Linked DNA regions of Homo sapiens. The protein of the gene in region 1 purifies or fractionates together with the protein of each later gene. This does not show direct contact. Each region holds a gene or a part of one and is shown on either strand. Other genes may lie near its edges.

Evidence for each region.
Region 2: the proteins of COPG1 (region 1) and ERGIC2 purify together in Homo sapiens (affinity purification with mass spectrometry; 2 studies listed by BioGRID and IntAct, with this or other methods). This does not show direct contact.
Region 3: the proteins of COPG1 (region 1) and ATL2 purify together in Homo sapiens (affinity purification with mass spectrometry; 3 studies listed by BioGRID and IntAct, with this or other methods). This does not show direct contact.
Region 4: the proteins of COPG1 (region 1) and SCYL3 purify together in Homo sapiens (affinity purification with mass spectrometry; 2 studies listed by BioGRID and IntAct, with this or other methods). This does not show direct contact.

The regions. Positions count from the first base shown.
Region 1 is NC_000003.12:129,259,606-129,266,634, forward strand, and holds part of COPG1 (coatomer subunit gamma-1), read left to right. Parts: intron 1-727; coding exon 728-795; intron 796-1,013; coding exon 1,014-1,202; intron 1,203-4,298; coding exon 4,299-4,394; intron 4,395-5,943; coding exon 5,944-6,187; intron 6,188-7,029. UniProt on the Homo sapiens protein: The coatomer is a cytosolic protein complex that binds to dilysine motifs and reversibly associates with Golgi non-clathrin-coated vesicles, which further mediate biosynthetic protein transport from the ER, via the Golgi up to the trans Golgi network.
Region 2 is NC_000012.12:29,336,823-29,343,172, forward strand, and holds the end of ERGIC2 (endoplasmic reticulum-Golgi intermediate compartment protein 2), read right to left. Parts: coding exon 6,298-6,350; intron 4,995-6,297; coding exon 4,912-4,994; intron 4,397-4,911; coding exon 4,334-4,396; 3' UTR 530-4,333; downstream 1-529. UniProt on the Homo sapiens protein: Possible role in transport between endoplasmic reticulum and Golgi.
Region 3 is NC_000002.12:38,367,246-38,374,274, forward strand, and holds part of ATL2 (atlastin-2), read right to left. Parts: intron 1-7,029. UniProt on the Homo sapiens protein: Atlastin-2 (ATL2) is a membrane-anchored GTPase that mediates the GTP-dependent fusion of endoplasmic reticulum (ER) membranes, maintaining the continuous ER network. It facilitates the formation of three-way junctions where ER tubules intersect.
Region 4 is NC_000001.11:169,883,887-169,890,915, reverse strand, and holds part of SCYL3 (protein-associating with the carboxyl-terminal domain of ezrin), read left to right. Parts: intron 1-2,025; 5' UTR 2,026-2,075; coding exon 2,076-2,240; exon of another isoform or gene 2,241-2,266; intron 2,267-7,029. UniProt on the Homo sapiens protein: May play a role in regulating cell adhesion/migration complexes in migrating cells.

The DNA.
Region 1 (7,029 bases):
GAAAAATTTTTTTTGAGTATTAGAGAATAAAAGCCAAGTTATGAAGAAAGGAACATAGATATTCCAGAAAACAGTAGTCATCTTCGCTCCTATGATTGAGTGCCAAATTTAGCTCTGAGCTTCCGGGCAGCCAGGGCAAGGGAGGGATATGGTACCCGAATGGCTCTCATCTAGTTAAAGGAAATAAACCATTTGTTTAAGAGAGGACTTTGTTCTTCAGCACTTGGTGCCAAGGGGGAAGTTCTGTTGGATCCTGTAGACACAGTAGGAGAGAGGAGTGGAATATTACTTCACAGAGGTTAAGGGCTTAGGCTGCAGGTGCAGGCAGTCTTGGAATTTAATCTTGGTTCTGCCACTTACTGGCTGCCAACCTAAAGTTTGTTTGCTTTCCCCTTTGTGCCTCAGTCTCCTTATCTGTAAAGTGGGCTAGTGGTGGCTGCAAGCTATAGAAGTGAGGCATGTCCACTGTATAGCACAGCACCTGGCACACAGCAGATGCCCAGTGAATAACAGCCCTCACTGGAACCCCTGGGTGCTCACAGACATTATGGCCTCTGTCCATGGCTCAGGTGCGCAGGGTGAGGGGAGCTCTGTGTCTTGGGTTGGGATGGGGGTGTCAGCAGGGAAATGAGCTGAGCAGAGGGTTTGAGTCAGAACAGTAGCCCCCGGTTTTCCCAGCTGCCCAGCAGTGAAGGCAACCTGACATGTGGCATCCATCTCCCCACAGTGCTCCAGCTTTTCTGCAGCTCACCCAAGGCTGCTCTCCGCTATGCTGCTGTTCGTACCCTCAATAAGGTAAGAGTCCAGCTTGGGGGTTGGAGGAAGCTGTCTGATCCAACTGGAGGTGTGTCCTAGCCTCTGACCTGGCTGGGAAGGATAATAGCCCTGGTCACAGTTAGTTTCTTCTAGATGGTGAGATGATCTCATCCAAAGGACTTCTGACTGGGCCAAACCATCAAATGTAGTGACAGCATTGGGTTCCTGCCCTCTCTGTCACTGTCCTCCCAAAACAGGTTGCCATGAAGCATCCGTCAGCTGTGACAGCTTGTAATCTGGATCTGGAGAACCTGGTCACAGATTCAAACCGCAGCATTGCCACGCTGGCCATCACCACCCTCCTTAAGACGGGCAGCGAGAGCAGCATCGACCGCCTCATGAAGCAGATCTCCTCCTTCATGTCAGAAATCTCGGATGAATTCAAGGTACCTGCTACCCCCAGGACACCCACGGCCCCCAGAGGAAGGAGCTCTGTCCCTGCTCTCTGTGGCCACAGCCTTCCTGCCAGGACTGACCTGAGGGGCTGGTCAGCCTTGAGGACTCAGAGGAGGCCAGCAGTTTGCTCTGCAGAGACTTGGCCTTCCGAGAAATGTGCGTAGTCCTGCCTCCAGGCCTCCATCCATATCGTCCCCTTGTACTGAAAGAACAGTAGTTTCCAGGCCAGTTAAGGGTTCATTGATTTGTTGTCCAAGTATTTCTTGAGCACTTGCTGTCTGCTATGTAGAGTGACAAAAGGGGAACATAGCAGTGAACAAAGCAGGTGACTGCCCTCCTGGAGCTTCCTTTCTAGGGATGGGAGAGGAACAGTAAACAGGTAAAGAAAGGAGTAGACGAGATCATCTCAGGCATGGGTACTGCAGTCAAGAGTGTAGAAATACAGCAGGGATGATCCTAGGAAGAGCACAGTCTGGGAAGGCCCTTCTGGAGGGTGACATTTGAGCTCAAACCTGAATCAGTGCAAAGAACCAGGAGGAAAGGCAGGAGCAAGTCAAGGAGAGAGAAGGCCAGTGGGTGGAAGAGCTGTGGGGCCAGTGCAGGTGACAAAGTCAGAATAGACAGGGCTCAATCATGTAAGGCCCATGGTCAGGTAAAGAGTTTTAATTGCAAGGAAGACATTGGAAAGGTGTTCTTTTGGGGCAGGAGGAAGGATGTGAATATTTTTTGAGCTTATATTTTGAAATAATTCATAGGAAGTTACAAAGAAATATACTGAGAAGTCCTATGCACCCCTCCATCAACCCTCTCCTACAGTGCCAGCATCCTACACTAGCACAGGACAATGTCAACCAGGAAAGTGACACTGGCATGACCCATAGAGCTCATTCAGATTTCACCAGCTACACAGGCAACTCCTGTGTGTATATATGTGAAGTTCTATGCAAGATGTCATGTGGAGACTTTCAAAATTGCCACCACAGTGAAGACACTCAACTATCCATCTCCACAAGACTCTTGTTACCTCTTCATAGTCAGGCCCATTCCTACCTCTCTATTCCCTAACCCCTGGCAGCCATTAATTTGTTCTCAATTTCTGTAATTCTGTTATTTCACAATTGTTAATTGATAGAACAATGAAGTATGTCACCGGAGAGTTTTAATCAGAGCAAACAATAATATGAATAATATATTGTGGTAAATTCTATAGTGTGGATTATGCAAAGTAGGCAGCAGTCTACTCTGCCTGTGGGTTACAAGAATGCTTTGCAGGCTGAAATGACACAGTGAGATTTGCATATTAGATCCTTCTGGGTCTGGGCACGGTGGCTCATGCTTGTAGTCTCAGTGCTTTGGGAGGCCAAGGAGGGAGGATCACTTGAGGCCTGAATTTTGAGACCAGTCTGGGCAATGTAGCAAGACCTCATCTCTACAAATTTTTTTTTTTTTTTTTGAGTTGGAGTCTCGCTCTGTTGCTCAGGCTGGAGTGCAGTGGTGTGACCTCAGCTCACTGCAAGCTCCGCCTCCTGGGTTCACGCCATTCTTCTGCCTCAGCCTCCTGAGTAGCTGAGACTAGAGGCACCCGCCACCATGCCCAGCTAATTTTTTGTATTTTTTAGTAGAGACGGTGTTTCACCATGTTAGCCAGGATGGTCTCGATCTCCTGACCTCATGATCAACCCGCCTTGGCCTCCCAAAGTGCTGGGATTACAGACGTGAGCCACCGCACTCGGCCTACAGAAAATTTTTTTAAAAATTAGCCATGTGTGGTGATGCGCACCTGTAGTCCCAGCTACTCTGGAGGCTGAGGTGTGAGGATCACTTGAACCCAGGAGTTCGAGGCTGCAGTGAGCCATGATCATGCCACTGCACTCCAGCCTGGGTGACAGAGTGAGACCTTGTCTGAAAAAAAAAAAAATTGGCTGGGCGCGGTGGCTTATGCCTGTAATCACAGCACTTGGGAGGCTGAGGTCGGCAGATCACTTGAGATCAGCAGTTTGAGATCAGCCTGGCCAACATGGTGAAACCCTGTCTCTACTAAAAAAATTAAAAAATTAGCTGGTGTAGTGGCTCACACCTGTAGTCCCAGCCACTCCGGAGGCTGAGGTAGGAGAGTCGCTTGACCTGGCCTGGAGGTGGAGGTTGCAGTAAGCCGAGATCGTGCCACTGCACTCCAGACAGAGCGAGACTCCGTCTCAAAAAAAAAAAAAAAAAAAAAGAGTCCTTCTGGAGCAGAGTGGAGGGGTGACTGGGTAAAGAGACTGTTGGAGTAATTCAGAAGGAGAGGATGGTGCCTGAACCGGCGGGAGTAGGAGAGGTGGGACAGTGCAAGAGCTTTTTGAGGGATAATGCCTGTTGGCAGGGTTGGTGTGAGGGTTGAGGGGTGGATGTCAACAGAGATGATGCCATTTTCTACTTTGAGCTGACAGTGGTGCTCTTGACTAGTTTGCAGGGGAGGAAAAGATGGGGTATTGGATGAGGGAGGGGGAAGGAGATGGAGATGTTTGTGGTTGCAGACATGTGGAGTTTGAAGTGCTGTGGGCGCCAGGTGGAGTTGTCTGACAGGCAGTTGGAAAAGGCAGGTCTTAAGCTCAGACAGGAGATAAATATTGGGAGTCAGTGGCATATAAGAGGCGGTTAAAGCCATGGGAGGGGATAAGATTGCTGAAGAGACTGTGAGAAGAGAAGCGGCCAAGGACAGAATACCCCAGAGACAGGCTTAACCAAAAAGGAGCCAGAGGAGATGATGGGTGGGAACCATCAGTGGGAGCCAGTGGTAGGGAGAGAAGCAGGACAGGTTGGGTGGAGGGGACTCGGAGACTTAAGAAGCCTGAGTAGAAGAGCAGAGTTTGGGGAACCCAGAGTCTGAGAGTCTGACACTGGGGCTGTTGGCACTGCCTTGGGTGGGCTCAGGGATTGTGCCCTTCAAGCTTCAAGCGTGGAGTTGAGTTCCTCTGGTCTCCTTGCCCTTGTGTCATGCCCAAGGCCTGGCCTTACCTAAGGAAGGACTCAGTGGGCACTCAGGGAACTGAGTCACCCCATCTTGGTGGCAGGGCCTGCTGCTCATGCACGTCTATTTCATTTAGGTGGTGGTTGTCCAGGCCATCAGTGCCCTGTGTCAGAAATATCCTCGCAAACACGCCGTCCTTATGAACTTCCTGTTCACCATGCTGCGGGAAGAGGTAAGAGTCAGGGGCATTCGGGGGATGCCAGGTCTCCTGGTGCAGGGAGTGACCTGACCACTGGCTCCATGCTCAGCTTTGTGCGTGTGCTTATGTTAGCCTGTTAACCAACTGGTTTTCATGGTGCCTGCAACCCTTTAAACTCCTTGTGGACATGTAAACACGTACCAATTGCTAGTAATTACAGTAATAACTATGACTCACCAGCCTGACTTTAAAAACTGGATGTCCTGAGGTGATGCTTGTGCAGAAGATGGGAAAATGCATGTTCTTTTCTGGTGGACTCTAGTGCAGAAATATTCTAGACCATTCCAGGAGCTCTAGGAGTGGTTTCTTGTGAAACCGGTGCTAATAATACGACATTGGTTCTATTTCTGTTCCCGACGTGAATTACTGATTCACTTATGCCACCTTTCTTGGACGTCTCAACAAAATGGGTTAATTCTTAGGAGCAATAGCAGATGTTCATGGAGTAGATTTGTTCCTCAGATACATGGTACCCCTTTCACCCAGCCCCAGAGTGGCCCATGGACTAGGCAGTAGAGGAGCCATTGCCTTGAGTGTCTTTGCGTTTCCCAAGAATGTTGTTGTAGAAGGGCACTAATGTTTAGTGAGTTGTCAGCTAATGGGCCCAGCACTTTGGTGATTGTGTTTGTTTTTTTTAAGTAGAGATGGGGTCTTGCTGGGTTGCCCAGGCTGGTCTCAAACTCCTGGCTATAAGTGATCTTCCCACCTTAGCCACCCAAGTTCTGGGATTACAGGTGTGAGCCATCATGCCTGGCCAGGCCTAGCACTTTGGAGACACTGTATGCATGATAGCAGTTTTTTTTTTTTTCTGTTGAGTAGGAGTCTCGTTCTGCTGCCCAGGCTGGAGTGCAGTGGTGAGGTCTTGGCTCACTGCAACCTCCACCTCCTGGGTTCAAGTGATTCTCCTGCCTCAGCCTCCCGAGTACCTAGGACTACAGGTGCCCCCCACCACGCCCGGCTAATTTTTTATATTTAGTAGAGACAGGGTTTTACCATGTTGGTCAGGCTGGTCTCAAACTCTTGACCTCAGGTGATCCACCCACCTTGGCCTCCCAAAGTGCTGGGATTACAGACGTGAGCCACTGCGCCCGGCCTCCATCTGTCACCCAGGCTGGAGTGTGGTGGTGTGATCACGGCTCACTGCAGCCTCAACCTCCTGGGATCAAGCAATCGTCTCACCTCAGACCCCCAAGCAGCTGGAATTATAGGCATGCACCACCATGCCCAACTAATTTTTCTATTTTTTGTAGTGATGGGGTCTCTCCATGATGCCCAGGCTGATTTCGAATTCCTGAGCTCAAGTGGTCCACCCACCTCAGCCTCTCAAAGTGCTGGGATTATAGGTGTGAGCCACTGCACCTGACCAGCCTTTTGTTTGACAGGAAAGAGTGATAGAGGCCCAGAGAACCAAGTGCCCTGTCTCCAAGTTCTGTGTTTGGACAACTGTCCTTGGTCCAGCTCAGGTCTTCAACTCTTTTCTGGAGAGAGCAGGCTCCTTGCTTAGCTCAGCTTCTCTCTGCAGGGTGGCTTTGAGTATAAGCGCGCTATCGTGGACTGCATCATCAGCATCATTGAAGAGAACTCAGAGAGCAAGGAGACAGGGCTGTCACATCTGTGCGAGTTCATCGAGGACTGCGAGTTCACAGTGCTGGCCACCCGTATTCTACATCTCCTGGGCCAGGAGGGGCCCAAGACCACCAATCCCTCAAAGTACATCCGCTTCATCTATAACCGAGTGGTCTTGGAGCATGAGGAGGTCCGGGCAGGTAGGTCTGAGCCAGGGCTGAACTTGGAAACTTAGCTTACCCTTGAATAAATGTCCCAGCAAAGGGACCTGAGCCTCCAGTGGGGATTTGTGCACTCAGTGTTCTTGCTGCACAAGCTGTTTTTCATAATATTGTAGGCAGGACCTTACATGTCATCTAGTTGAACAGTTCTTTGTTTTTTGTTTTGTTTTTTTTTTTGAGATGGAATCTCGCTCTGTCACCAGGCTGGAATGCAGTGGCGCAATCTCAGCTCACTGCAACCTCCGCCTCCCGGGTTCAAGCGATTCTCCTGCCTCAGCCTCCCGAGTAGGTGGGACTACAGGTGTGTGCCATCATGCCCAGCTAATTTTTGTATTTTTAGTAGAGATGGGATTTCACCATGTAGGCCAGGATTGTCTCGATCTCTTGACCTCATCATCTGCCCGCCTCGGCCTCCCAAAAGTGCTGGGATTACAGGCGTGAGCCACCGTGCTCGGCCATGGTTCTTAACCCCTATAATTTTTTAAGTATTTTTTTAATTGAGACGGGGTCTTGCTATGTTGTCCAGGCTGGTCACGAACTCCTGGGCTCAAGCTATCCTCCTGCCTCAGTCTCTGAAAGTGCTGGGATTACAGAGCCACTGTGCCTTGCCTTAAGTGATTTTTTTTTTAACTTTCACTGTATGTTGATGTTTAGCTAAAAAACAAAAAGCTTTGTTGAGATATAATTCACATGCCATAAAATTCACCCATTTATATAAAGTTTACAATTCAGTGAGCAACCTTCCTATTCTTTATTTTTAATTTCTTTTCATGCCCCCACTGGACAGATTTTCTTCTTTCAGCAATAAATGATCTTTAAGT
Region 2 (6,350 bases), on another chromosome or scaffold:
CCAAATTGATTTACATAACTGCTTGAAAACAAAATACAAAGCATTTATTAGTTATGAGCTGTTGTTGAAGGTCTGCTTTAGTATATAGCTTTCACTAATGTATACTTTTCCTCATGCCTTCTCATCCTTAAGTTTCTCCTTATTAAAATAGTATAAAATGAGTTATATTTGGAAAAGTTAACCTAACTCCTTTTGTGAAACACAAAATATTTGGAGTTGCCAAAACTATTTGAATGTTTCACTGCTTGTAATCTTGTTTGTATTCAACTGTTAACATATATATATATATACATATAATTTTGAGTCAACTACTCAATTTTCACTTTTTCATCTTTAATATGAGAAATATAAAATAAACCCTGTATCATATAGCAATTTAGCTCCATCTGGAAGAAAAGCAAATGTAACCATGTGATATCTTAAAATTCCTGTAGCTTTCCTATGAGAAAAAAGTTTAAATATGGGAACTGAGGCTTATTTGGGGGTACATGATTTTAATTTTCTCCTAGTATTAAAAAGACAAAAAAAGTTTCATAATTTGTCATTTATTGAGTCCAAATGTTTATGCTTGCAATACTAAATATTTTGTTTTTTCTCTCAAGACAAAAAAAAAATCCAAGGCAGTCTGTTTTCTCCTCTTAAATGTAAAGTGATTTCATCAGTAATATTTCAGAAAGTAGAAAAAAACTATGCTTTGATTGCATCATCACAATATGGGGGGGATACATGGATCTTGATCCGGGCATTTTACCATAAGGTAGTAAACAACTGGTGACCTCTCTATTTTGATTGTGTTGAAAAAGGGCTACCACCTTGGCTTGCTGAAGGTTTGCTAGAGCTCAAAACAGGAAAAGTACTAGCTTAAAAGGCATGCTGAGATTTTAAAGGTCCTAAAGCTCAGGTTTAAGTAACTTTTAAACAATCAAAAATAGGCATTTTGAATTCAAGTGTAAGCTCTGAATTTTCAAGGAGTTTCATATTAAATTACTTTTTGGTACTTGAATTACTAACTCAGGACATAGATGGAATGCACAGTGTATCTCTCTTACACTATTAAAAAATTAGATCTGTCCAGGGGCAGTGGCTCATGCCTGTAATCCCAACACTTTGGGAGGCCAAGGTGGGCGGATCATGAGGTCAGGAGATTGAGACCATCCTGGCTAACACAGTGAAACCCCGTCTCTACTAAAAATATAAAAAAATTAGCTGGGCTTGGTGGTACGCACCTGTAGTCCCAGCTACTCAACAGGCTGAGGCAGGAGAATCACTTGAACCCGGGAGACGGAGGTTGCAGTGAGCTGAGATTGCACCACTGCACTCCAGCCTAGGCGACAGAGCGAGACTCAGTTTCAAAAAAAAAAAAAAAAAAATTAGAACTTAGTCATTCCTTCATGAATTCCAAAATTAAGATTGTATTAAAGACTGTAAATCTTGTTTGCATTAGTAAATTTTTAATTATAAAAATTCAATGCTATCATAAAACATACATGAGAAAAGTGTGATATTAATCATCTAACTTGAGAACTAGAAGTAATTTGGGTGCCAGGTGCAGTGGCTCGTGCCTATAATTCCAGCAATGCAGGAGACTAAGGTGGGAGGATTACTTGAGTCCGGGAGTTGGAGTCCAGCTTGAACAACACAGCAAGATACTAACTATATAAATGAAAAAGAATTAGCCAGGTTTGTTGGTGCATGGCTGTAGTCCTACCTACTCAGCAGATGGAAGCAGGAGGATTGCTTGAACCCAGGAGTTCGAGGATGCAGTGAGTTACAATCATGCCACTGCACTTCAGCCTGGGCAACAGTGCGAGACCCCATCTCTTAAAAAAAAAAAGAGAAAGGGAATTTTGCAATACTAAGTTAAGCTTTTCCTAAGAGGTAGTCTGAAGTGTACAAATACTGCAGCAGGGAATTATTCACCTAAATATTTAATCTTCTTTATAGGTCAATGTATGCAAACACAGTATTTAAAAATCCATTTCATATAATTTGAGATCTCATTTTTAAATATGTAGTCTGGAATATAAACATATAGATATTATGAATACTCTTGTAAAACAAAAAGGAGAATTGGGTAACAAAGTAGGGTATCCTGGCTGGAGGCACCTCCAGGCATAGGGAAAGTTGCATAACAGGTAGGTGAGTAAAGTGCTCTCTGCAATAGAAAAGAATCACTTGGTGAGGCCAAAAACTCCTAACAAATCCTAATATGCAGGTAAACTTCATCGTCCAAAGGGCTGATCGGAATTTTAATACTTCCATTGCCAAAAATCTGACTCTATTTGAGGAGTTTCAGATGGAAGCCTTTAACTTTTAAAATGGAAATCAAAGGCAAAGCAGAATTTTGCTTTAAAGAAATTCCTTTCATAGGAGATAAATTTCATTAAAATTTTAATATGGTATTTGGAAAATACGAAAACAATTAAAAATCATATATAAGTATCAAAATAATTTTTAAAGTCCTTTTTAAAGGCACTTAACTGTTCTAATCCTAAATGAAAGAAAATAATCCTAAATCAATATTGTTCTCCCTCCCATTTAGAAAAAGCCTTGAAACTCGATTGAATTTTCTTCCAAGCATACTTAAAGGACCAACAATCAGTCTACAATTCTAATCCTTTCCTATTAAAATTCCTGTGGATAGATGGTGTTAGTTTATAGCCAAACTTTGTTGGAAATAATTTGAAGAAAAAAAATTAAAACCTAGAGAAGGCTCATTCACGATTCAGAATTTTCTGTTTAAAAATCTTTCAAAGTATGTTATATCACTTATTTTCATCAGTTAACGTCATGGCTCTTAATGATATATTTTTTAAAGTGATGCTTCTGTTATTTTCTGCAAAACGTCATTCTGCATAAACTTTACTGCAAAACAGACCCATCACTATTTCTCCTTCTCTCCATTATATTGTTTATCCTGTTTTCATAAATTTATCTTTAAAAAAATCCATTTGAAAAACTGTTACTTGTGATATCCTGTTTTCTAAAACCACTATTTTAAATCTAGTTTTTCAGTCTTGTTATTTACCTGGAATTTTGTTTCCCCATTTCCTTAAATGATTTAAACTTTGAGGATTGGCTGCTGATTCTTCTACTGCCATTCAGTACTACAAAAGGAAAACTGATATTGGTACACATATTCCAAATACAGCTTTTAATAGTACCTGTGTGATAGCTCCCTCTCACTGTTTTTAATCTTTTATAATGTGAAGATTTAGAACCAATCCTTAAATAGTAAGAAAGTTAGAACACAATCTAATACAGAATCAATCATATTCAGGACACCCTGAATGCAAATACTTCATAATACAGTTTTATAGTTTAATGGACAATGTTTAACATGGCACCTCTCAAATCTGATATATCTTGTGGTGCTTACAATTTGCCTTACACTTTCATTTAAAGTTACCCTGTTCTCCACTCACCACATGTATAAAATATCCTATTTTTTCTCTTAATGTTTTACAAACCGGTAATTTTCACTATCAGTAGCGGATCTTTTTATAACTCACCCTATGTTGCCCAAAATACACCAATAATATAATGATTAGATTAAAAAACTTGGCATCTTTTTTAAAAAAATGTGCTTTCTTTTCCGTGTATAAGATTCTACTATACCATTTGTGAATGACACCCTAGTTACATAACACCTACATATCTGCCCCTGTGAGAATTTACCTTAGTCTTCTAAGACTCTATCTTCAACAGTTAGATAAGTCAATAACCAGAGTTCAAAGAAAAGTAGTTACTTTTTAAGACCAAATTATTGGATAACTGGTCTTGTCAATATGGCTTAACATTAATATGGCTATAACATAGGGACTAGCCCGTTTTTTTTTTTTATTAACAATGTGACCTGATCACAATTCTTTAAAGTCTAGACTAGTTTTCCGTATGTTTTCCACATTTTATTCTGACATCATATCTTTTAAAAACAAAAGGATGCGAACATTTGCACTTCTCAATGTTTTTTTTTTTCCCATAGATGTAGTTTCACTTATTTCCTTCAGGCTTTTTATCAGCAAGAAGCAATGTCTGATTTTGATACCACCCATTTGCTATGAAAATATAAGAAGGCGTCATCTTCAAAGCAACACTCCAGTTGGGCTTCTTCATCGTTTAGCTGCATGATTTCTTCTACGACATTTGTAACAGACACAACGTATATAGAATTTCAGTTTGGGTTTTTTTATCCTTTTTTTTCTTTTTTAAAATAAGTATGTTTTCTGCTTATTTGTGTTTTCTTTTCTTTGAATATATTGCACAATATTTTATTATTAAAAAAAGGTTTTATGTCTCAGGCAAAAAGTTTTTCTCCTTCAATCGGGAGGTGTTAATGTGTATTATTTTCTAAAAGAGGTAAGTGGTTGTCTGTGTGGCCATCCTCAAAAGGAACCTAAGGAGAAAAGGAGGGAAAAAAAGACCAAAGAATTAGTTTTATTCCTTATACTCTTTCCTCTAAACACAAGGTTTTATTTTGGGCAATCCTTTCTAGTAACCAAAAGCTACTATTTCTCTCTCTCTCTCCCCCTATTTCTCTATCTCTCTATCTCTATCTTTTTTGAGGCAGGGTCTGCTCTGTCACCCAGGCTGGAGTGCAGTGGTACGTACGATCATAGCTCACTACAACCTCAACTTCCTGGGCTCAAGTGATCCTCCCACTGTGCCCTCCCAAGTAGCTGGGACTACAGGCTTGCACCACCTTGCCTAGCTAATTTTTTCTATCTTTTGTAGAAATGGGGCTCTCACTATGTTGCCTTGACTGGTCTCAAACTCCTGGGCTCAAGCGATCCTCCCGCCTTAGCCTCCCAAAGTCTTGGGATTACAGGTGTGAGCCACCATGACTGGCTCATAGACTTAACAATGATTCTAAGATTTAGAGATCAGCACCATGTATACTACACCACTTACAGAATTGACAGGTTTATAGGATCCAAGTCTGAAACGACAGCAAATTATTTCAACTATAAATTTTCCAATTCCATGTAACATGCCTGTAATAAACAATAAGTTTATGCTTTTAATTATTTCCTAAACTGTTATTTAAGAATAAATAACTATAATGGAATAGATTACGGAAGAAAACAAAGCAGTTTGCATTATTCACTTCCATGGTTAAAAATAATCAAGAAAGATTTTAAAACAAATGGATTTCTTTTCAAAGTCACAAGGCCACATAATTCACGATCTCAGCACAATCTTTTTTTTTTTGAGACGTCTCACTCTGTTGCCCAGGCTGGAGTGCAGTGGTGCAATCTTGGCTCACTGCAACCTCCACCTCCCAGCTCAAGCAATTCTTGTGCTTCAGCCTCCCAATTAGCTGGGATTACAGGCATGTACCACCATGCCCGGCTAATTTTTTATATTTTCAGTAGAGACGGGGTTTAGCCATGTTGGCCAGGCTGATCTGGAACTTCTGGCCTCAAGTTGATCCGCCAGCCTTGGCCTCCCAAAGTGTTGGGATTATAGGCATGAGCCACTGCACCGGGCCTAAACACAATCTTTTCAAGGTTTTCCCACACCAATACAATTTTGGAAAATAAATGATGTCAACAACACAAATTTAAATAGATTGAAATGAAGCACTAACAAAGAATTTCGAAAGAAAAGCTATTCATTCATTTAAAAATATGATTCTAAGTATAATAAACTACCCAGCTCCATCTAATACTGAATAAGGACTGAAGATGAAAATAGAATTGTTTCCTTTTTCTCTATTGTACTTAACTCCCAATTTTCATCATTACAATTCGACAAATAATCTTAGCGAATTCCAGGATCTCAGGACAAAAATCATAAACATGTTACTGATTACAAATCTAGTTTCATGTATTGCATAATTCAAAGTACTATAACATATGATTTTACATACTGTACAGTTAAAAATGTCTTAAATGCCTTCTAGGCATTTTCATATTTAATCCTATAGCACACTTGCAAATTAGGTATTATTATTGCTATTTTTACTGATTAGAAAACCTCAGAAAAGGTAGGTGATCTATTCCAAGCTACCACCAAGTAAATGACAGAACTTACATTCAATTCTACTTCAATCTGATGTTAACACCCAGGATCTTTCCAACTCACCATTATATAATCTACCTTACATCATTGAATACAATGAAATTAGTTATGTTTACTGGTTAGTCAATATAATTTTGGAGTTTTGTAATTAAAGCAAAAGCTATTTAAACACCGAAACATGAAAATCTGTATACTTCTTGCCCCTTTGAGAAGAAGCAACTTAAGTATAAGCAACACTTTCAGAAATTAGACAAAAAGGAAATGGTTGTTAACCTGTTGTTGAAAAGATTCCTCCAACAATACCACAGAGTCTTACAAAAAACTGC
Region 3 (7,029 bases), on another chromosome or scaffold:
GCACTGAAACAGATGCCCACTCTCCGACAATAAAAAGAGATACGAATAAACAATCAATATATGATTAACAATTTAAGGCCGGGCGCGGTGGCTCATGCCTATAATCTCAGCACTTTGGGAGGCCAAGGCGGGCAGATCACGAGGTCAGGAGATCGAGAACATCCTGGCTAACACGGTGAAACCCCGTCTCTATTAAAAATACAAAAAAAAATTAGCCGGGCATGGTGGCGGGCGCCTGTAGTCCCAGTTACTACAGAGGCTGAGGCAGGAGAATACCATGAACCCGGAAGGCGGAGCTTGCAGTGAGCCACTGCACTCCAGCCCGGGGAACAGAGCAAGAATCCATCTCAAAAAAAAAAAAAAAAAAAAAACCGCCCATTTAAAACAACTTTTTTTTTTTTTTTGAGACGGAGTTTCACTCTTTTCACCCAGGCTGGAGTGCAATGGCGCGATCTCGGCTCACTGCCACCTCCGCCTCCAGGGTTCAAGTGATTCTCCAGCCTCAGCCTCTGGAGTAGCTGGGATTACAGGCGCTTGCCACCATGCCCAGCTAATTTTTGTATTTTTAGTAGAGATGGGGTTTCACCATGTTGTCCGGGCTGGTCTCGAACTTCTGACCTCAGGTGATCCTCCCACCTTGGCCTCCTAAAGTGCTGGGATTACAAACGTAAACCACCACGCCCGGCCTAAAACAACTTTTTTTTTTTTTTGAGGAGTCTCGCTCTCTCTCCCAGTCTGGAGTGCAGTGGCGCAATCTCGGCTCACTGCAAGCTCCACCTTCCGGGTTCACACCATTCTCCTGCCTCAGGCTCCCCAACAGCTGGGACTACAGGCGCCTGCCACCACGCCCGGCTAATTTTTTGTATTTTTAGTAGAGATGGGGTTTCACTGTGTTAGCCAGGATGGCCTCTATCTCCTGACCTCATGATCCACCCACCTCAGCCTCCCAAAGTGCTGGCATTACAGGCGTAAGCCACCGCACCTGGACTCTAAAATAAGGACTTTTTTTTTTTTTTTTTAATTTGAGACGGAGTTTCACTCTTGTTGCCCAGGCTGGAGCGCAATGGTGCAATCTCAGTTCACCTCAACCTCCACCTCCCAGGTTCAAGCGATTCTCCTGCCTCAGCCTCCCTAGTAGCTGGGATTACAGGCATGTGCCACCACGCCCGGCTAATTTTGTATTTTTAGTAGAGGCGGGGTTTCTCCATGTTGGTCAGGCTGGTCTCGAACTCCCCACCTCAGGTGATCCGCCCGCCTTGGCCTCCCAAAGTGCTGGGATTACAGGCATGAGCCACTGCACCCAGCCATAACAACTTTTTAAAAGCACTCCAATAGCATGCCTAAAGACTAAGACTACCACTAATAAGTTCAAAAAAATTGCCAATTTATTTAAGAAAAACATGAAAGAAACCAACACACACAATTCTCACCAAAAAAATACAAAATTAAAAAGCAAATATGAAAAATAATTTCCTGCATGCAAACAGGCTTTTACAAAACAATAAAAGAAATACTGGGAAATGCTCAAAAAATATTAAAAAGCAATTAATAAAAAGAAGTCAGAGCTGGGCACAGTAACTAACGCCTGTAATCCCAGCACTGAGAGGTGGAGGTTGGAGGATCGCTTAACCCCAGGAGTTCGAGACTAGCCTGGGCAACATAGTGATACCTCATCTCTAAAAAAGTAAATAAACTAATTCACATTTTCAATTTCCATATCACTATTCCAACATCAACTACAATCAAAAAATTGCAAATTAAACTGTAATATGCCCATTTTTACCTATATGTTGGCATTTATTTTTAATTAACACCCACTGTGAACAAAGATACTTGCAAACAAGCACAAACCTAACCCTGATGAATAAATGGGTAAAACCTTTCTGAATGGATCTAGCTTTTTCTTGAAAATGTACATGTCAGGCCAGGTGCAGTGCCTCACACCTGTAATCCCAGCACTTTGGGAGGCCAAGGTGGGTGGATCACCTGAGGTCAGGAGTTCAAGACCAGCCTGACCAACATAGTGAAACCCCCATCTCTACTAAAAATACAAAATTAGCTGGGCGTGGTGGCACATGCCTGTAATCCCAGCTACTTGGGAGGCAGAGGCACGAGAATCAGTTGAACTCAGAAGGTAGAGTGAGCCGAGACTGCTCTACTGCACTCCAGCCTGGGCGACAGAGTAAGACTCTGTCTCAAAGAAAAAATAAATAAATTTTTTTAGTAGAGACGGGGTTTCACTATGTTGGTCAGGCTGGTCTCGAACTCCTGACTTTGTCATCCACCCGCCTTAGCCTCCCAAAGTGCTGGGATTACAGTCGTGAGCCACCATGCTCGGCCAATTTTTTTTTTTTAATTAGCCAGGCATGGTGGCACACACCTGTAAGTCCCAGCTACTCAGGAGACTAAGGCAGGAGGTTCACTTGAGCCCAGAAGGTGGAGGCTGCATATTTGAGACCCTATCTCAAAAATAAGTACATAAATAAAAAATAAAAATTAAAGTGCTGATAAAAAGAAAACAGCAATTTATGAAGATGCTATTAATAGCCATCTTGAAAAAATTCTAAGAACAGGGGTGTTTTCCCGTCAAAACTCCTCTCGGATTTGTCATTAAAAAAAATCAAAGCCGGGCGCGGTGGCTCACGCCAGTAATCCCAGCACTTTGGGAAGCCGAGGCAGGTGGATCACGAGGTCAGGAGATTGAGACCATCCTGGCTAACACGGTGAAACCCCGTCTCTACTAAAAAAAATACAAAAAATTAGCCGGGCGAGGTGGCGGGCGCCTGTAGTCCCAGGTACTCGGGAGGCTCAGGCAGAAGAATGGCGTGAACCCCGGGGGGCGGAGCCTGCAGTGAGCCGAGATCCCGCCACTGCACTCCAACCTGGGCGACAGCGAGACTCCGTCAAAAAAAAAAAAAAAAAAAAAGAAAGAAAATCAAGACCGGGCGGTCGCTCACACCTGTAATCCCAGCACTTTGGGGGCCGAGGTGGGTGGATCACCTGAGGTCAGGAGTTTGAAACCAGCCTGGTCTGTCTCTACTAAAAATACAAAAATTAGCCGGGCACGGTGGCGGGCACCTGTAATCTCAGCTGCTCGGGAGGCTAAGGCAAGAGAATCACTTGAACCTGGGAGGCGGAGGTTACAGTGAGCCAAGATCGCGCCACTGCGCTCCAGCCTGGGAGACAGAGTGAGACTCTGTCCCAAAAAAAAAAAAAAAAAAAAAAAAAAAAAAAAAATCAACCCAGCCAGCACAGTGGCTCATGCCTGTAATCCCAGCACTTTGGGAGCCCAAGGCGGGCGGATCACTTGTGGTCAGAAGTTTGAGACCAGCCTGACCAACGTGGTAAGACCCGTCTCTACTAAAAAATACAAAAATTAGGCGTGGTAGCGGGTGCCTGTAGTCCCAGCTACTTGGGAGGCTGGGGCAGAAGAATCTCTTGAACCCAGAGGTGGAGGTTGCAGTGAGCCAAGACTGTGCCACTGCACTCCAGCCTGAGTGACAGAGCAAGACTCGATCTCAAAACGAAACAAAACAAAACAAAACAAAAAAATCAACCCCTGGCCCAGCAGGGTAGTGCAAGCCTGTAGACCTAGCTACATAGTAAGCTGAAATGGCGGGGGTGGGGGGTGCACCCCAGAAGTTCAAGGTTGCAGCGAGCTATGATTGAGCCACTGCACTCCAGCCTGTGCAACAAGGCTAGCCCCTATCTCGGGGGGGAAAAAAATAAGGAAAAAAATACAAAAAGATAAAAAAGATTAGGAAATGGCAAAAATCAACTCCCCCATTCTGATAAAGGTGAAATTAAACCAACTTTTGGCATCCCACAAATTCATTCACTGAAATTTTTAAAAAGCTCTCCATTTACCATGCCAACTTTCCTCCTTTGAGGAGTTTCTTTATAGAAGGCTTTCAAATTTCTAAATGGCATTTATAGGGTTTATCTCTTTAATTAAAAAAAAAAAAAAGAAAGAAAGAAATGGCTGGGTGTGGTGGCTGATGCCTGTAATCCCAACACTTGGGAGGCAGAGATGGAAGGATCACTTGAGTCCAGAAGTTTGAGACTAACCTGGACAACACAGGGAGACCACATCTCCACAAAAAATTTTAAAAACTAGCCAGGTGTGGTAGCACACTCCTGTAGTCTTAGTTACTGAAGAGGCTGATTCAGGAAGATTACTTGAGCCAGGGAGGTCAAAACCGCGGTGATCACGCCACTGCACTCCAGCCTTGGCAACAGGGCAAGACCTCGTTTCAAAAAACATAGAAACAAAACAAAATTTTTAAAAAAATTACTGTAAGTTTGCTAGGGTAGATATTAACCACTGGGAAGGAAAAAAAAAAATGTTACAGAAAAACATTACAGACCCAGGCAGGGTGCGGTGGCTCATGTCTGTAATCTCAGCACTTTGGGAGGCCAAGGTGGGTGGATCACCTGAGGTCAGGAGTTCGAGACCAGCCTGGCCAACATGGTGAAACCCTGTCTCTATTAAAAATACAAAAATTAGCTGGACGTGGTGGCACGCGTCTGTAGTCCCAGATACTCAGGGGCTGAGGCACAAGAATCGCTTGAACCCACGAGGTGGAGATTGCAGTGAGCCAAGATCACGCCACTGTACTCCAGCCTGGGTGACAGAGGGAGGCTCTGTCTCAAAATAAATAAATACATAAAAATAAAACATCATAGACCTAGTATTAAAATCCAAGCCTCCATTCTAAATCCATTTCAAAAATCATAGGAAGTTTGCAGAACTCAAGTTAAAATGTTAAAGATGGATGTAGTTCTAATCACTGTCCATGACTCTATTCTAAAGGATTAAATGAAGGGAAAAATAAGGTTTTTATGAGATTCACTGTTAGTATGGTTTCATGTTAATTGTTTTTTTTTTTTTTTTTGGCAATCCTGTGCATAACAGACCCAAGTTAGATTTTGCAGATTTACTGTTTGAAAAGCCAATGCACTATACAGTCAAGTCAGCCCTCCATATCTATGGGTTCTACATCCATGAATTCAACCAACCAGGAATAGAAAAATTATTTAACTGCATCTGTACTGAACATGTACAATTTTTTCTTGTCATTATTCCCCAAGCATACAGTATAACAATGATTTACATTGTATTAGGTATTATAGTGTAGAGATTCAAGTGTACGGGAGGATGCACATAGGTTATATGCAAATACTATACCATGTTCCAGGGACTGGAACATCCTTGAATTCTGTCATCAGAGGGAGGTTCTGGAACTAATTTCCCATGGATACCAAGGGACAACTGTACTTGGAAACTGCCATAACCTTAAACTATGAAATTAACTCATATGAAATCCTGCAATTGAAATAAACAATTCCAGAAGAACTACTTTGCCACAGGATTGTCTAAAATGCACATTTATTAAAATGAAGATAGCTAAGAAGCATGAATGATCACATCTTATGTTAATAACTGAACAAACACCTTCCAAGTTGCCTATTTTGAAAATTACTTTTTAGTTCAAAGTCTCATCTTAAATAACCACCCATTATGGTAATAACCACCTCCGACAGAATATTTGGCAGTGGGTTAAGCACTTTTAACACATTTGATACTTACAATAACCCTATCATGAACATATTATCAGCATTTTACAGCTAAAATTTAAAACTTGCCTACCACCCTTGCCCAAACTAAATCTCTGTCCACAGGAAAAAATTATAACTTTTTATTGCAAATATACACATTATATATAATAGCATAATAACACAAGTAGTCACACTGGTACATTCTTACATATATGTTACTGTGCCTTAAGACAGTTTTACAAACTTTAAAGTACTACAAAACACTTGCACCCTATCATCTGTTTCCCACGACAGCCTTGTTACGGATTATCACTACCTTATATGAGGGCTCCAGGCTCTGAGAGCTTAAGTGAAATCACTCATTTGATTCCTCATTCTTTTCCCACTACATTATCCTCCCTATGATTAAAGAAGCATTGCCGCCACAATCAGAGCATCTTTGCAATAAAAGATAAAATGTTACTAGAGAACCTAGATAAGTATTCTTCACCAGTTACATACTTCTCCAACAAGTTATTAGAGTTACTGGCCAGCAGGATATCCAGCTAGCCTCTAAGTGGTTGTTTGGGGACCAATCATAAAGTTGTATGAACAGGAGTTGTATGAATACTTTTTATTAAGCTAGTAGCTTAGCAAGGGAATCCCCTACATTCTACTTGTACTGGTCCGAAGACCAAATCCAAGGTCAATCAAAAGTACATATTATCTCCTTGGGAAAACAGAGGATGTTAGTCTTTTATGACTTAAAAGTTGTTTCTAGTAACTATCATCCGACCATACACCACACAGCCATTTGTCTCAGAGTAGGTAGTGAAGGTGGCTACTTAAATACACACATTTTTAAAAAACTGTATCCAAGTTTAGCAATATGTGTATATACCCAAGCACACAGAGACACGTTCCATAACTTGGAAAATCATCTGTAAAAGTTATTTTGGCTTTGCACTTCTGAATACTTCATGCTTCTCCATGACCATAACAAACAGAATTGTTCTACTTCCTTTACTAATTGTTCTACTTCTTTCTATAATATCTACCAAGTATTATCCTATTGCCATCATATTTTCAGGTTGGTACTTTCTTCCTGCTATCCTTTTTATGGGGGAGACAGAGTTTCGCTCTTGTTGCCCAGGCTGGAGTGCAATGGCATGATCTCGGCTCACGGCAACCTCCACCTCCCAGGTTCAAGCGATTCTCCTGCCTCAGCCTCCTAAATAGCTGGGATTACAGCCATGCGCCACCACACCCAGCTAATTTTGCATTTTTAGTAGAGAGGGGGTTTCTCCATGTTGGTCAGGCTGGTCTCGAACTCCTGACCTCAGGTGATCCACCTGCCTCGGCCTCCGAAAAGTGCTGGGATTACAGGCGTGAGCCACCGCACTCAGCCTGCTATCCATTTTTAAAGCCATAGAGAAAGCCCTCGAGTGTTGTGTATCATGTGCTGTGTGGAGGACTAACGGATAGGAAGAA
Region 4 (7,029 bases), on another chromosome or scaffold:
ATCTCCAGAACAGAGGGATTAGCATTGTTGCTTTTACCCATGGTCCCACATAAACTTTTTATTTGTAGTCCCAGTAGAAAGGTGAATGTTACCATAGTTGCCATACTTGGCATTTCTTTTAGTACTGTTTTTTGCTTCTCTGTCATTTTTAAGAAAGATACATTGCCAGGTAGGTAGGAATTCAGTGAATTTGTTACAAAGCAGATTTAGTTCTTATTCTCAGCAACATTTTTAGATTTTGAAAATCTTCAATTTTAGATAGCTTTAGCCTTTATACATGTGTTTCTTATATAACGATGGTTGTGGATCGGTAGGCACTTTAAATTTTGTTCTAGGCATGTGTTTTGAGCAGCATTACATACCCAGTGTAGAAGGTGTTGTATGGAATTTCACCGAAGTGGGGAAAAATTCCAAGTAGAGGGTCAATGTGTAATGATTATTGAGTTTATATTTGTCCAAAGAATACAGATTTTAAACAAATTTTTAAAGGCCTACATAGAATTATTGGCCGTATTTGTAGCAGTTTGCTTTCTACATTGCCAGAGTTAGTAAGAACTCTATTTTCTAATTTTTATATTATGGTAAAGCCACCACTGAAAACTGACTGCCACAGATTTTTCAGACATACGTTGTTTGGCCTATATAGGTTTAGAAAACATTTGATTCAACATTGAAAAATATGGAGATTTCCACAAAACTATTCAGGCTCTTGGTTCCTCACGATAAGTGGCATGATCTGACAGTTCTGAAACTGCAGTCCTGGTTGGAACTCTGTGATAGCCACTGTCTTCAGAATGCAAGCCTCTCACAGTAGGTCCCATGCACGCACAGTAGGTCCCTCTGCCAGGCTGCCAGTACTGCTGGGGCACTGCACATTACCTGTTGTCACCCTGTGAGTTTGTATCCCTGTTGTCAAGAAAGCTGTTCATATTGTAGAAGATTTGGAAGGTGCAGGCAAGTGTGTGTGTATAAAATTACCTATAATCTGACCTTCCACTGGAAACCTCTGTTAATACTTCAACATATATTTTTCAAGTCTGTGTGTATGTATACATATATTTCTTTTCAAAACAACTTTGAGGCGTAATTGATACAGAATAAATGAAAAAAGTGTACAGTTTTATGTTTTGACATAATCACCCGTTACCATCATCATCATCAAGATAATGAATATATCCATCCTCCCAAAAGTTCCTCATACATCATGATAATCCTTTCCTCTCCCTTGATCCCTCTAACTGTGCCCCTTCACTAGGTGAGCACTGAAGTATTTTGTCATAGTTGCATTTGAATTCTGTGTATGTGTGGGCTTTTGTTTTTTTTTAGCAATTGAGATTATTTGAGATTCAGTTTTGCGGTTTCCCCTTTTTACTTAGGATAGCTTTGAAGAGTAGTGCGATCGTACTTTTTCTTATGTTTATCGTCATTTGTGTTTCTTCAATGAGTTGTCTGTTTTCTTTCCCATTATTGTACTGGTGTTTTAGTGTTTTACTTGGTTTATATGAGCTCTTCATTTGTTAATATGTTTTTCATCATATTAACAATGTTTTTCAACATATTAATATTAAAACCATGATTTTCCTCATTATAAGTATTCTCCAATTTGTATTGTTTTCCTTTATAATTTTAAGTTATTTTCTACATACAGAAGTTTTATTGTTTTTGAGTAATATTTTTACAACATTTTCCTTTGTGAGTGAGGATATACAAGTGAGTTAGGAAGTATGAATTACCTTATTCTATTTTTGATTGCCTTTCCACTCTGAAAGTTTGTATGTGGTGGAGTTTGGGGAGGGACAGTAACTACCTGTGACTATTTAGTAATGTGCATTTTCTCTAGAGCTGTTAGTTGTTAATTAACAACCATTGCTGGTAACTTGCAGAGCGTTTACCATTTTTACTGTCAAATGTCCTAGTTATGAGGATCAAAGAAACTAGTAGTTTGGGGTGGCTATGTCTGGATATCTCTTGTTGATGTTGCAGATAGGGATTTAATGTTTGAAATTGTTTTCTGTTTTCTTTTAGATCTGCTTGGCTTTGAGGAAGAGTGGCAGTACTGCCTCACTGCATAAGGGATGGGATCAGAGAACAGTGCTTTAAAGAGCTATACACTGAGAGAACCACCATTTACCTTACCCTCTGGACTTGCTGTTTATCCCGCTGTACTGCAAGATGGCAAATTTGCTTCAGTTTTTGTGTATAAGAGAGAAAATGAAGACAAGGTTAATAAAGCTGCCAAGGTACCATAATAGGTGACGACTTAATAGTTAGTACTTTTTACTATCTTGTTTTCTTTTAAAAAAATATGAAATTAGTAAAGTTCAAAGGAGGTAAGATCATAAGGACCAGTATTTTATTTATGTCCTTTCAAAACATTGCTCTTACTTCATGGGCCTATCTTCCATTTGCATGACATGGTCAGGTACCATACCTGTAGCCAAAAAACATCATAAAACTCAGTACAATGGCTTTTATCATCATATTTTATTTTTCTGGTGAGAAAGTTAGGGAGACATTTTTATGTAGCTAATATAAGATATAAGGAGCTATATAAGGAGTTAATCTCGTCTAGCAAAATGCAGTTAAGTATTGACATCATTCTGGAGGCTTCAGCTTCCTCCTTAGGGAAAAGATCCTTGTAGTTCATGCCTTATAATTGTTGCTCCAGGCAGAGGGTGCCAGTGCATTAGCATGCTGTCTGACACACTCAGGAGATCCTGGCCTCTTATCAGAAAAAATGATTTTACTGTGGAATGTAAGTCAATAAAATAACCCCAAGTGTCTTTTTGAATTAGGGAAAATGAAGGCATTAGTTGATGCTTCTTTGGATAGCTAGCACTTTGGAAATTTAGGAATTCAGATATATCATCTTCTAAAATGGAAAATGTAATTGTATTAGTAAATTAATTCTCCAGTGTTTATTCTGGTAGGCATGCTATTTTCAAGTTGAACTTGATATCTTGATTTTGTTAGAATTATAATCTCTATTACCTTGAGTCCCTTAGTTATCAACAGGTATGGAACATTGATGTCTGTTTCATAGGACTCTAAATTGTTTTTATTTTTTTAAAATGATTATAAAGGATTATATTAGTAATGGAATTTTGGTCTTCACAACAGTAATTTATTTGATGTTGTATTTTTGATCAAGCATGAAATTGTTATAAGATGGTTCCTAAAGAAAAAGATGGGTAACAGTTCTCTCGAGATGCGTGGTGGTAAAAAGTATATAGCTGGCTGTTTTCTTGCTAGGTAATTTTGCTTTTTGGTAGAACCACATTTTTGACTCTTTTTTTACATCATCTAGGTATTGTTAAGAATTTTTTATTGTGATTTTACAAAAGACAAAATGCCTTACTTCGCTTTCTTGTTCTTACAGTTAATGTCTAACATGCCTCCTGTTATTTTCATCTAATAAGATTGTGCATTTTTTTTAATAAACTATTATCGGCGAGGTACTAGAGACTTATCTTTCTTAGTATTTTTTTCTTTATAAGATTTTTTTAAAATTGTGTTACACTTTATGGTGCACGTACCAAGAAAATTGAATAACCTAGATCGAGTTTTTAAAGGAAAAAACAGCAAGACCACTCTCCATTTTTGAGGACTTCTGTGCTGAAGGAATTGCGAAGCTTGAGAGGGAAGACTTATTCCCCCTTAATATTCATAGATACCCTTTTAAGCCATGTCTGAGTCTTTGCACATAGTTCATCTTTGTCTCTTGTTAAGCCATTCTGTGGCTTTGAAAACCTCATATATGAATTTGGGAAATTTGAAATTGCAACAAAGTGATAACTTTAGATTCTCAGAATGTTTCTCATAATCTTAAAAAACTAGGTCATAGCACTTGAGAAATGTATGGCATTCGATGTGCTAGATTTTAGGAATTTGATGTCCTAGGTATCTGAAATACTAAAACAATATATTTAGCTTGCCTCACTTTCTCTAGAGTTTGGGTTGTTGGTCACACCTTTGGTAGTTTTAACGATTATTTCAAGCAGATATATAGTGTTTTCTGTTACTGGATAACAATATACACTTTCTTCACTGTTACAAGTAAAAAACAACAATCCTAGTATACACCAAGATGAAATGCAGGTATAAGCTCTGGCCACAAAATAATGTGAGAAATACTTAGTTCTATCTGACCATCTCATTTTACATTGAATTCATCAGCTATAATTAACAGTATAATTTGCTAACTGATGATGATGACTCATATATGTAAGCCTATAAACAGTGATAAATTCTAAGCCCGAATTTGGTTGCTGTAGTTTGCTGTAATCTAAGTGTTTAGTTAGGGCTTTGTGGTAAGCTTATTAAAGCTTATAAAAATGATTCTTGAGTGTCTTTATGCCAGGAATCACATTGGACTCTAAGAGTGGTATGTAGATGCTATATAAGTGCTCTATTTAGTATTGTTGGAGTCATTATGCTCTTCCCCATAATGAATTTGGGCTGTTGTGGAAGGGTTAGTCAATGTTATTTAAGAATGCACATTGTGTGGGCATAACAAGAAATGGAAGAGATGATGGCTATGCCCAAAAGAGCTTGCATTCTAATTGGAGAAAGCTGTTCTCCTCTCTCATACTGACTTTTTTTTTTGAGATGTAGTCTCACTCTGTTTCCCAGGCTAGAGTGCAGTGGTTCGATCTTGGCTCACTGCAACCTCTGCCTCCCGGGTTGAAGTGATTCTCCTGCCTCAGCATCCCACGTAGCTGGGATTACAGGCACGCGCCGACACACCCAGCTCATTTTTGAATTTTTAGTAGAGGTGGGGTTTCACCATGTTGGCCAGGATAGCCTCTACCTCTCGACCTCGTGATCCGCCTTCCTCAGCCTCTCAAAGTGCTGGGATTACAGGCATGAGCCACCGTACCTGGCCCATGGTTGACTTTTTAAGAAATTATTTTTTGCCCTTCATAATCAGAATCCAGTGCTCTTACGTGGCTTCTGGGCACTATCCACTCAGAAGAACTTCAGAAGTATCCCCCATGCCTCAGGTATGATGGACCCACCAGATGGAATGGCCAGCTACTTGCTCCCCACCACACCTTGCAGACTTCACGCTCTCCTTTTTCCTTGGATGTTAATAACCATCCAACCTGCCATTCTAAACTAATTATCTGCCAAAATCTCTAGTCTGAGCTCCAGATCTATATTTTCACTTACCTATTGAACATTTCCACCTAAAAGTTTTATCAGTACCTCAAATGCAAGCTCTACAGAATGGAATTTTTATTCCTTTCTCTTTCTGCATTTTATTGTTAGTTTATGATCTAACCTTCAGATAGTGGACATTTACAAAAAAAAAAGCATCTGCATTTTGTCTTAGATTTACATCTTCAGAGAAAAAGGAATAATATTTTTCCCTGAAGATCTTTGTTCTCTAGTTTAGGCATCTTGGTTATTTTGTTTACTTAACATATTTAACAGCGTGAAATTATGGCTTTGTCTCATCTAAAAGCCTGCAGGTGGATTTGGGCTGTAATGCTGAGTCAGTTAACTTTGCATAGTTCTCAAAGTGAAATAGCGAATCAGAGGCAGAACAACAATAAAAAGTTAAGCCTCTGAGGCTTGAATGAATTCTCTGGATAGCTGAATCATAACTGATTCCTGATAAAGGGGAATCATTTATATTTAGGGAAAGAATCTCATACTTAAGATCCCTGTTTGGGTGTAGAAAAATATCATCATTGATAAATTATATAATACTATTCATATTTAACAATAAAGGTCCTTACTCAGAACCCTCTTTCAGAGACCATCACCTAGGACAGTAAATGGGATGTAATAGGTATTCAATAACTTTGGGGAAAGTGCTTTCAAGACACTCATTCAAAAATAGTCATCTTTCTCTACTAGGGCAAGAGCCATTTATTTGCTCAACTGATGTTCATTGAAAAATATCCTAGTTACCCTTAGCAAGTATGTCTTGTTGCTATTCTTTAGAGCAGCAGAGGCTTGAATCAAAAAATGTCCTATTTGATTCTGAACTGCTAGCCTTTCCTGTGAATCTGTGTGCATAATTTATGCTTAATATTAAATGTACCAAAGGAGAGTGAGAAATAAGGTTCTTGCTAAGTTAAGTGCCTTGTTCAGAAACATGTAATGAGTCATTTCTTCTTCTCCTTCTTTATTAAACAAACAAGTACTCACTTTGCATCAAGAAAATTTCTAGGCATTGTAGAGTAAAACAATAAGCAGAAGAGAACATGAAAGATTTGGTTTGAAAATTATTTGAAATGATTCTTAAATGAAAATATGAGGGAGGCTACATAATTTTATACAGAAACCGTAGCTCAAAACACACCTGTAGGCCAGGCAAGGTGGCTCATGCCTATAAGTCCAGCACTTTGGGAGGCCGAGGTAGGTGGATCACCTGAGGTCAGGAGTTTGAGACCAGCCTGGCCAACATGGTGAAACCCCATCTCTACTAAAAACACAAAAATTAGCCAGGCATGGTGGTGGGCGCCTGTAATCCCAGCTATTCGAGAGGTTGAGGCAGACGAATCATTTGAACCTGGGAGGCGAAGGTTGCAGTGAGCTGAGAACACGCCATTGCACTCCAGCCTGGGTAACAAGAGCGACACTCTGTCTCAAAAACAAAACAAAACGAAATAAAAAAACACTTGTAAAAAATTATTCCCAGTTAACTGCACTCATTTAACCAACCTGCTAACACAATTTTTGGTTTATCTGGATCTTTGCTGTATTTATTAGTTTGTAATTGCTAGTTAAAGAAATTTTTTCTTCAATATTTTCTTAATTATTTTTTATTGAATTAACTCGAGGGTAACAACTTTCTTCCTAAGAATAAATAAATAAACCCTATTGGAGCTATTCCCAGAGTTGGCAAAATTTGAGATTATTATAAGAAAATAAAAGAAATTGGAGGCTGGGCACAGTGGCTCACACCTGTAATCCCAGCACTTTGGGAAGCCGAGGTGGGTGGATCACAAGGTCAGGAGTTCAAGACCAGCCTGGCCAACATAGTGAAACCCCATCTCTACTAAAAATACAAAAACA